3 linked regions of the Homo sapiens genome follow. The protein of the gene in region 1 purifies or fractionates together with the protein of each later gene. This does not show direct contact. Each region holds a gene or a part of one and is shown in the gene's direction. Other genes may lie near its edges. The genes, in order: TIMD4, SERPINB9 and SPTBN4.

Evidence for each region.
Region 2: the proteins of TIMD4 (region 1) and SERPINB9 purify together in Homo sapiens (affinity purification with mass spectrometry; one large-scale study listed by BioGRID and IntAct). This does not show direct contact.
Region 3: the proteins of TIMD4 (region 1) and SPTBN4 purify together in Homo sapiens (affinity purification with mass spectrometry; one large-scale study listed by BioGRID and IntAct). This does not show direct contact.

What each region holds. Positions count from the first base shown.
Region 1 is NC_000005.10:156,918,775-156,922,144, reverse strand, and holds the end of TIMD4 (T-cell immunoglobulin and mucin domain-containing protein 4 isoform 1 precursor), read left to right. Parts: coding exon 1-46; intron 47-1,641; coding exon 1,642-1,681; intron 1,682-2,603; coding exon 2,604-2,688; 3' UTR 2,689-2,853; downstream 2,854-3,370. UniProt on the Homo sapiens protein: Phosphatidylserine receptor that plays different role in immune response including phagocytosis of apoptotic cells and T-cell regulation.
Region 2 is NC_000006.12:2,896,749-2,900,400, reverse strand, and holds part of SERPINB9 (serpin B9), read left to right. Parts: intron 1-344; exon of another isoform or gene 345-485; intron 486-1,281; exon of another isoform or gene 1,282-1,372; intron 1,373-2,331; exon of another isoform or gene 2,332-2,460; coding exon of another isoform or gene 2,461-2,475; intron 2,476-3,652. UniProt on the Homo sapiens protein: Granzyme B inhibitor.
Region 3 is NC_000019.10:40,567,938-40,571,589, forward strand, and holds part of SPTBN4 (spectrin beta chain, non-erythrocytic 4), read left to right. Parts: coding exon 1-345; intron 346-1,719; coding exon 1,720-1,789; intron 1,790-2,498; coding exon 2,499-2,791; intron 2,792-3,652.

The sequences.
Region 1 (3,370 bases):
TTGGGATTTGTGCTCTTCGCATTGTTTGTGGCGTTTCTCCTGAGAGGTAAGGAGGGAGGGCCAGGTGATGGAGCACTTCAGAACCCTGGCGACTGCAGGAGGATCTGGAGTTGTCTCCACTTCCTTCCCCTTTATCCCTCCCCAAAGAGGCTCAGTTCTGCCATTGTTCCCATCCCAGCCAGGGAAGTAACAGGTAAGTTCATTCTCCCCAAGCTGCTAATGACTCTGTGTATTAACCTCCTGGTAGAGTTTACGTTTTGGAAAAGGAAAAAAAGCAGAAGAGCACCTTCATTTATTGGACATTTCTGTGCCAGTCCTGATGGTATACTCTTGATGTGCCTAATTCATTTTATCCCTATTACTGCCTTAAGAGGAAAGTACTATTTCCTACTTTGTTCACTTTCTCTGTTCTTTGGTTGGGAAAACCCTAGCTTGTCTCTTCTTTTGGCTAGGATTGTTGCAGGACGAAGACCATGAACAATCCTGGTTTTCTTCTTCTTTTTTTTTTTTTTTTTTTTTTTTTTTTTTGAGAGAGTCTCATTCTGTTGTCCAGGCTGGAGTGCAGTGGCGTGATCTCAGCTTACTGCACCTCCGCCTCCTGGGTTCAAGTGATTCTCCTGCCTCAGCCTCCTGAGTAGCTGAGACTACAGGTTCACGCCATCACACGGGACTAATTTTTGTATGTTTAGTAGGAGGGGGTTTCACCATGTGGGCTAGGTTGGACTCAAACTCCTGACCTCAGGTGATCCACCCACTTTAGCCTCCCAAAGCTCTGGGATTACAGGCATGAGCCACCATGCCTGGCGTGATCCTGGTTTTCTTATATGTTCCCTAAAAGCAAGCTTTCTTAACCTGGAGGCCACAGATGGACTTCAAGGGTAATGTGAATCCTTTGAAATCACATGCAAAAGTGTTTATGTGTTCATGCCTGCATTTTTCAGGGGACAAGGTCTGTAGTTTTCATTAAGTTAGCAAGCTGCTCCATGACCTTGCACCTCCATCCCACCCCTGCCCCCCGCCCCCAAAAGTTTTAAAATGCTACAAAAACAGCCATGAAACAGCTTATGGTTTTCAGGCAAATTATAGGCACGTGGCACCTGGTACTGTTGTAAAATGGGGATAAATTGTTCTGTACTCATTAACAAAAGCTGTTTCAGGGCAGTATGTCAGGAGATGAGACTAGTAACCATCTCAGCTGATTTGAATAATAATGAAACTTGTATATTTCAACACCTGCCCCAGGTGCAAAAGCAAATTTAAAATTTACTGGAATCCTGCTGTTAGCCTTCATACAAAGGCATGATTACAGTTTTGGAAAATTCTGAGTATGTCTCGTAAAGAAGTGTTTTGAAACCCAAGTGAGTGCTTGAATTCTGGATAGGCAGATGACTCAGAATGAAATAGCTTAACACCATTGCCCAGAATGTTGGAACAACTTGGTAATTGATGAGCACTAACTGTGGTTAAAATAGCAAGTGTTTGACCTGGGAAAGGGAATGGCTTTTTCTGCCAAAGCCAGCCACTGGTTCTCACCTTTGGCCCATATCTGCTCTTTGCGGGGCAGCACTGGAATTCCCCCAGCATTTTGCATGTTCTATGCACCGCAGCCACTCTGCTCACACTGTGGCCTTGTCTTTTCAGGGAAACTCATGGAAACCTATTGTTCGCAGAAACACACAAGGTAATCTATCTTGCATGAATGGGTGTTGTAATGATTGTACAAGCTGTTACAAATGATTAGCTACTACTCAGTGGTTTAATGACTTGAGCTTGTGTTACGATTACACATAGAGTTGGAAAGATGTGACATTAGAAGTGAAAAAGTTGTGCAGATTTAGCTCACATTAACCTGTGTCTTGGTTAACACTCTGAGCAAAATGCCAGTACCAAGGCAGGTGGGATTAATAGAAGTATAGCACGCAAAAGAAAGAAGGTGATATGGCACTTTACTCTGAAATTTTTTGTTCACCTATGGGTAAGTTAGTTTAAGAGGCCATTGTTAAACTGGAGTTTATTGAGGAGCGTTGGCAATATGGAAAATGAAAAAAGCATGTAGAATATTATTCCTGGGAGTTGGTTCCTCTGCCCAGTTAGACCATGGAAGCAGCTTGTTTTGGGGCCTTTTTAAAAATAGTATTTGAAGATTCTCTAGTAAGGGATTTTAGCTATTTGCCCTATTCTATAGCTTTTGGAAAAGAAATTTTTAAAAAAGGCATAAATTATTAATGAAGTCCTTGCCTAATTAATTGCATTCACTAATTAGTTGCATTAATACCACAATATGTATTAGCAAGAAGGAAAATTGACACCCAGCGAGGTGACCTTTCAAGGTCACACTTAGAGACCTTTTGGTAAATAAACGTATTGAAATCATGATTTTATATTTTGCTAAGAATCTTTTTTATCTCATTATAATGGATTGGCAGAAACTCTTTTTCCCCTGCAGCCTCAGTTTTCCCATCTGTAAAATGTGGAGCTTAGACTAAATGAACTGTGAGCCCTTTGAACTTTAAGGGTAATTGCACTGTAACTTAGCAGCATCTGTTTTGTTTTGTTTTCTAGTCTTGTGTTTCCCATTATGAGCCCCTCTTTTCTGTTTACAGGCTAGACTACATTGGAGATAGTAAAAATGTCCTCAATGACGTGCAGCATGGAAGGGAAGACGAAGACGGCCTTTTTACCCTCTAACAACGCAGTAGCATGTTAGATTGAGGATGGGGGCATGACACTCCAGTGTCAAAATAAGTCTTAGTAGATTTCCTTGTTTCATAAAAAAGACTCACTTATTCCATGGATGTCATTGATCCAGGCTTGCTTTAGTTTCATGAATGAAGGGTACTTTAGAGACCACAACTTCTCTGTCCATGCTCTAATCATCTCTGTAGAATCACCGCTAAGTGATCTTTCACAGTACACTTGAACACTTTCAGTGACAGTGAACTCCTTACCACACGCAAGGGAGTCCATTCAATCTCAGAGCAGTTCTGAGATTAAGAAATATTTATAGCAAAATCTGTCTCCGGATGACATCTGCCCATAGGTCATAGTTGAGCTCCTTATGCCTATCAGAACATCTCCTTTATTAACTGCCGGATCAGTGTTGTGTGAACTAACAGGACAAAAAATCTATAGGCTCCATCAGTCAATAAGACTGATTTTTTTTTTTCTCTCTTAAAGGTAATGTCAAGAGAGTAGAAATCCAAAAGATGGTTACCTTTGGAGAAACATGTGCTTATTCCATTAATGTTGCTATTGCTCTAAGCATGCTGGGAAGTACTGGAGAGCTGTTAACTCTTCAGGTATTAGAAGGAGAATCTCATGTTTCTCCAAATTTCCTTGCTTCTGGGATACAATTTCTGGTTCTTTTGTT
Region 2 (3,652 bases), on another chromosome or scaffold:
CGTGTTCTGTCACCAGCTTCACACTCACACTCCAGAGCCACTGAGAAAGGAGGGCAGGACTGGGGCCCGAGTGTGCACTGGCCGTTTCAGGGAGGCGGGGTCCACTGGGGAAGAAGTGGGGCAGGGCAGGGAGGCAGGAACTCTGCTCCACCGAGATTTATTTGGGGGAAACTTTCCTCGGTTAATCCCTTGGAAAAGACCATCCAAGCTGTCTTGTCCTAGCGCAGAATCTTTCTTTAGAAAATGACACTGAAATTATTTGAAACATAAGTTGCAAAGAACTACCTCTTTTTTGGAGCAAGAGACTTTGTAACTAAACTTTCATTGGTAAGGAAGGTTAATACCTGTTTCAAGTTGTTTCTGTACCAACAGCTCAGGGAGGGCATCAACAGAAATTTGCAAGAAGGATTCCAGGGCAAGTGCTTCATTACAGCTGCACACTGTGCAGGTACTGCTCAGCTCAGTCTCACCAACATTCAGAGAACCTGTGGAAATGATTCAAGATCAGTGCTTGTCCCCAGACCTTTGTGGAAAGGAGAGGAGACATACACGTGAGATGAAACCGAAAAGCGCCATCCCTGAGTGCAGGCCGCTGGACACGCCTTCATCATGGGAGTTGTCCTTTGTTCAATATGACTGTCTTTTTCTTTGATGACGCTTTTCAATAGTGAATTACTCATTTTAATAATTTCCCAGCTCATTGTGTGAAGAAGGGAGGGTTTATGTGTAAAGGCTACCAGCCTTAATAATAAGCACAGAGAGGCTCTCTAAAAGATATATATATTTGGAAATAGGGCATTGCAATGAAAATACGCATGCCATGGCAAGCTATGTGCACATTCAGGGAGGTGAAATAACACTAAGATTTTTAAAGGAAAAAGTAAAGAGGATTACATAATTCCTTTGAAATAATTATTTTTGGCAAAAAGATCAATAACGAAGGTGATGTCAGTGTGAGGTTGGATGGGGAGTTCCTGGGTAGATGTCCTTGCACAAGTATTTTGTTGTGTAAGGCTGTGATGGCCTTTGTGCAAGAGCGTAGGTTTTTAGAGTCCTTTGTGATAGTTGTGTTATCAGGCATTCAAGCGTGAGAACCCTCTCTTCATGGCCTTCCCTGTCTGTTTGTCAAAGGTTTTTGGTTTTGTTTTTTTAATATTAGTGACTCCATTTTGATTCTGAAGTTCCTTATGCTGAAATCTGTATGATCTTTTTCTATGTTTTAGGCTCACTGATAAACCCTTATAGAAAGCTTTTTTGAGAGCACCAAAATTGTCTGGGTACCTTCTTAGGTGTGAGACTGAGCTCTCTCCATGGCTCCAGTGTTCAACTGGATGCTTGTGAGACACCAAACATACTGAGTACACGTTGCTACCTGTAACATGCAGGGAAGCGTTAATGGCAGCAGAAATATTTTAAAGAATTATTTATTTTTCCTTCATTATATAACTGGTAAAAGTCCACTATAAAAATTTTTAAAAAATAAAAGTAGAAGGGAGGAAAAAATCCCTATGAATCCATCAAACAGAGACAACCACCCTTGATAATGTAAAGCATCTTCCTCCAGTCCTATTTCTTTTTTTTTTTTTCGAGACAGAGTCTTGCTCTGTCGCCCAGGCTGGAGTGCAGTGGTGCGATCTCAGCTTACTGCAAGCTCCACCCCCCGAGTTCACACCATTCTTCCACCTCAGCCTCCCGAGTAGCTGGGACTACAGGTGCCCGCCCCCACGCCCAGCTAATTTTTATTTTTAGTAGAGACAGGGTTTCACTGTGTTAGTCAGGATGGTCTCGATCACCTGACCTCGTGATCCACCCGCCTTGGCCTCCCAAAGTGCTGGGATTACAGGCGTGAGCCACTGCGCCCGGCCCTATTTCCTGATTTTCACTTGACATTTTGTACTTTGGTGATTATATGGTATCTTTACTTTTATAAATGATTTTTCAGCTAATGTGAGGATTCGGTGAGACAGTCCATGTAAAGCAAGTGCTCAACATGTGTTGGCTATGAATAGTAATAGTGGTGTCACAGCCTCAGGTGAAATTGGTCTTAGCTTTTGGTTCTGTTCTATTTGACAGGGTTTCTCATCAACAGTCTATGAGCTGTCTAAAGTAAATTTAGTAGCTTCCTCTTTTTTCTATGTTATAGAACAGTGTGTATTGCATGAGAAATAGAAATTGCTTGAATATTAGAAAAAAAAATCCCTCAAAAGATCATCTAAGCCTTTTTAGAAGTAATTCTCTCTCTCCCTCTTATTTTTTTTTTGTTCATTCATTGTGACTGATAGATTCTGTTTTTTGTTTGTTTTGTTTGTTTTGTTTTGTTTTTTGAGATAGAGTCTCTGCTCTGTCACCCAGGCTGGAGTGCAGTGGTGCTATCTCAGCTCACTACGACCTCCAACTCCCGAGTTCAAGTTCACGTGATTCTCCTGCCTCAGCCTCCCGAGTAGCTGGGATTACAGGCACATGTCACCATGCCTGGCTAGTATTCATATTTTTGACTGGCATTTGGTAACTTATAATCTGTACTTTACTGAAAATAATTATATAGAGTTTTTGTTTTAACATTCCCTTTGTTTATATTGCTGTAACCTCTTTTTCACATATAACTTTACTTTGGGGTGCTTTTTCTTACATGTGGTGGGTGGCTGTCTGTTTTGTATGTATGTGTGTTTTCTTTTAAAGAACCAGCTCTTGGATTCATTGATCATTTTGTGTTTGTCCCAAAATTCCTTGGGAGTTTTTCTGTATCTTTTCTAACATAATGATTTTAAAGTTTTAGCATTTTATTACTTTCTTGGTAATATTGAAAACAATGCTATGTTTTAACTTATCTTTGGCCAAACTCTTTGGTCTAATATATATCACCCATATTTTGATTATTTTCTAAATCATATGTCATATACTTATTTAGAAGAATTTGTTTGTTTGTTTGTTTTTTGAGAAGGAGTCTTGCTCTGTTGCCCAGGCTGGAGTGCAGTGGTATGACCTTGGCTCACTGCAACTTCCGCCTCCTGGGTTCAAGTGATTCTCCTGCCTCAGCCTCCCAAGTAGCTGGGATTACCAGCAAGCATCACCACACCCGGCTAATTTTCGTATTTTTAGTAGAGACAGGATTTCGCCATCTTGGCCAGGCTGGTCTTGAACTCCTGACCTCAAGTGATCTGCCCGCCTCGGCCCCCCAAAGTGCTGGGATTACAGGCATGAGCCACTGTGCCCAGCCTAGAAGAATATTTTAAATATTTGTTTAGAAGAGGATTTTTTGTGTTTTTTTTTTTTTTTTGACATGGTCTTGCTCTGTCTCCTAGGCTGGAGTGCAGCAGCTTGATCATAGCTCACTGCAGCCTCAAAGTCCTGGGCTCCAGCAATCCTCCCATCTCAGCCTTCCAAGTAGCTGGGACCACAGGCACACACCATCATGCCCAGCTAAGTGGAGATGGGATCTTGCAATGTTGCCCAGGCTAGCCTCAAACTCTTGGGCTCAAACAATCCTCCTGCCTTGGCCTCCAAAAGTGCTGGGATTATAGGCATGAGCCACTGTGCCTGGCCTAGAAAAGTATTTTAATTTTTACTTTGAAGAGTTAATTATTTAGAAAAGTGTTTTCAGTAATATTTTGTAGGTGATTTTCATTTTGTTGGCATTTTATTTATAATGCTG
Region 3 (3,652 bases), on another chromosome or scaffold:
CGCGGCCCTGCCGGCCGCACCAGAGGACGCGGCGGAGACCCCCGCGACCCCCGCGGCGGCGGAGCAGGTGCGGCCACGACCGGAGCGCCAGGAGTCAGCTGATCGCGCGGAGGAGCTGCCCAGGAGGCGGCGGCCTGAGCGGCAAGAGTCAGTCGATCAATCCGAGGAGGCTGCGCGGAGGCGGCGGCCGGAGCGGCAGGAGTCAGCGGAGCACGAGGCGGCACACAGCCTTACCCTGGGCCGCTATGAGCAGATGGAGCGGCGGCGCGAGCGGCGTGAGCGGCGCTTGGAGCGGCAGGAGTCCAGCGAACAGGAGATGCCCATCAGAGGAGACCTGGTCAAGGGGTGAGGTGCCCGCCTTATGACCAGAAAGTGAGGGGAGGGGAAAGCGGAGAGCTCCTAGAACCCCTCAGGCCCAGTGAAAGGGCTTCAGGGCTCAGAACTTCCCAAAGAAGGAGATATCGCCGCGGTACCCATTTTGCAGAGGTGTAAACTGAAGCTGCAAGATAATCGATGTGCCCATTGTTACACAGAAAGGGGAGCCCTTCCTGTTGAAAGAAAAGGCAGACTGCCTTTCTCCAGACGTAGGTTCTCGGCCCCTGGGTTGTGACTCCTGCATCAAGTCTCCCGGGTGCCCCGAGGCAGGGATTTTGTCCTCTCTGTGCCTCAGTTTGCCCACTGGGCTAATGGTGGAACCCTCACCTCCTTGATTGGAGAGGAGACCCTTTATCACAATTCTCTCAGCAGCCTTATGAAGTGGGGGCTGTTGTCTTCTCCATTGTATGACTAGGGCAACTGAGGCACAAAAAGGGCAAGTCACTCAGCTTAAACGAACCAGGACTTTCAGAATCCAGAGTTGGCCAGTGTGTGTTGTGCAGATCTGTCCAGTCAGCTGAGTGTGTCTCCAGAAAGAGGCCTTTGGTCAGGAGACAATGACTTCTTGATTCTTTTTAAATTGCACATTTCATGAACATTTGCTGAGTGCCCACTCTGCCTGGCATGTGCTGAGTCGAGCGGTGACTGAACCAGTCCCATCCCTGACTTTAGAGACTCACAGTCCATTGGGAAAAACAGGCTTGTCATCAATGATGACCGAGAATTATCTGGGCTGGAATGGGGGCGATTGGGGGACTGGAGAGTCAGGGGTGGGTGGAGAAAGGCAACGTTTGCAAGTTGTTCTTTGTGCTGCTTAAAATTCAAAGGGGCATCTGGGCGCGGTGGCTCACGCCTGTAATCTCAGCACTTTGGGAGGTTGAGGCGGGCAGATCACTTGAGGTCAGAAGTTCGAGACCAACCTGGCCAATATAGCAAAACCCTGTCTCTACTAAAAATGCAAAAATTAGCCGGCATGGTGGCGCACGCCTGTAGTACCAGCTACTTGGGAGGCTGAGGCAGGGGAATCGCTTCAACACAGGAGGCAGAGGTTGCAGTGAGCCGAGATCATGCACCACTACACTCCAGCCTGGGCAACAGAGAAAGACTCCGTCTCAAAAAAAAAAAAAAAAAAATTCAAAGGGGCGAGAGGTTTGGTCTTCCATTCAGCAGACACGTCCCAAACACCTGTGGTACCTAAGGCGAGCATCTGAGAGAAACAGCTGCAGAAGTGGGCAGGGGCCTGGCACTTCCAGCTAAGAAGTGGAGGCTCCTCTGCCCAGCCAGACAGGTCCATGGGAGAAGGAACCCTGGTTTCACTGGGTCTTTCTGTCCCCCATCCCCCAGGAAGGCCACCCTGGCTGACATTGTGGAACAGCTGCAGGAGAAAGAGGCAGGCCCAGGGCTGCCTGCTGGGGTAAGTTGAGCCTCGGATGGGTGGGGATAGGAGGACCCCTTTTTCAGAGCAGGAGGCAGGATCTCAGAAACAGCCAGTGCCTAGCCCTGGCAGGACCCATTCCCTACCTGGACCCTGCAGAGACAGCATGGACTCTCAGGGTCCCCAGAATCTGAAAATGTCCCCCTTAGAAAGACGGGGCACCTACCTAAGAGACCCCTACTGCCCCTCCACACACACACACACACACACACACACACACACACACAGACACACACACACAGACACACACACACAGACACACAGACACAGATACACACACAGACACACACACACAGACTCTTCCCACATCTGTCCTGGACTCCGTATTTCTTCAGCTCAGTGGGGTCCCAAATTTCTTCATAGCCTCATACACACACACACAGAAGGAAGCCCCAGGTTTCTCCTGCAGACAGTGGGGACACGCCCTGCTTGCACCCCCACCTCCAGAGATCTGGCTGCCTCTTTCCACCACCGAGAGAGATTCCAAACCAATGAGTCCTAACAGACTCACTCCCAAGACCCATGGGGCCCTAAGAATTGGGCCTCCAACCCTGAGGTCCTCCCATACTCGCCTCCGAGACAAATGGCCCTGTAGACAGATGGGACCCCAGACCCATGACTCCCCCAAACAGATGACCCCCACACCCTCTCCATGGACAGCACCCCTCTTCCCCCTCCCTTCACACAGCCGTCGCTGCCTCAGCCACGCGAGCTTCCCCCAGGTCGCCTGCCCAACGGGCTTGAGCTGCCCGAGCGGACACCTCGGCCGGACCGGCCCCGGGCGCGGGACCGGCCCAAGCCGCGACGGCGGCCGCGGCCCAGAGAGGGTGGTGAGGGCGGGGGAAGCCGGCGCTCGCGCTCCGCCCCGGCCCAGGGCGGCTCCGCCCCCGCGCCTCCGCCACCGCCCACTCACACAGTGCAGCACGAGGGCTTCCTACTGCGCAAGCGCGAGCTCGACGCTAACCGCAAGTCGTCCAACCGGTGAGCGTGTGGGCGGGGCTTTGGAAGGCGGGTCTCAGGCTCAGGGTGACCATTGCGTGGAGCGGTGGGACTGAGGAGGGGGTGTGGCTCAACTTCAGGCCCTCCAGCAGGTGGCGGTAGTAGGTGGGGCCAGAGCTGGGGGGTGGTGGTGGCTTAAATCAAGAAAGCCAACCAATGAGCAGGAGGGGGTGTGGTTTAACGTCAGGCCCTCCAACCCGTGGGGGTAGTAGGTGGGGCCAGATGAGGGGTGGGGCTCAACTTTGATGATTCCAACCAATGAACAGGAAGGGGCAGGACCTAAGGTTAGTGCATCTAATGGATGATGGGTAGAGCTTAGGTGGGAACAGAAGGAAAATGTTCTGAAAGTGAGTAAATTGGAACCTAACCTCTTAGCAACCAACCCAGGAGTTGATCAGCTAAATAGCAAAGAGGGAGGCATCTAGTTGAGAAGGTTTCAATGGCTTGTCGTGGAGCTTGGAGAGGTCACTCAACCAATGAGTGGGGTGGGTCTACCCTTGAAGTTTCAAATTGGGGGAGGGTCCGAAAACGGGCAGAGCCCAAACTAATGAGGGTAGGGGTTGGGAAGGGGGAGTCATCTCTTACAGGTTTCCAAATGAGGGTCTAGCCATGATGTGCCTGCTCTTGGGGAGTCCAGCTCCTGCTTGTCCACCCTCTTTTTGTCCAACTGAGAGGCAGAATCTGGGGACAAGTGGAGCCAAAAAGGGGTATCACCGGCCAGTAATGGAGTGAGTCCCAAGATATGAAGTGGGCAGGACAGATTCAGATTTTGCTAGTGGAATCTGTAGGTGGTCTTTCTTCCTCGTACCTAATGCCAAGGTAGGAATAAACAAGGGCACCTAG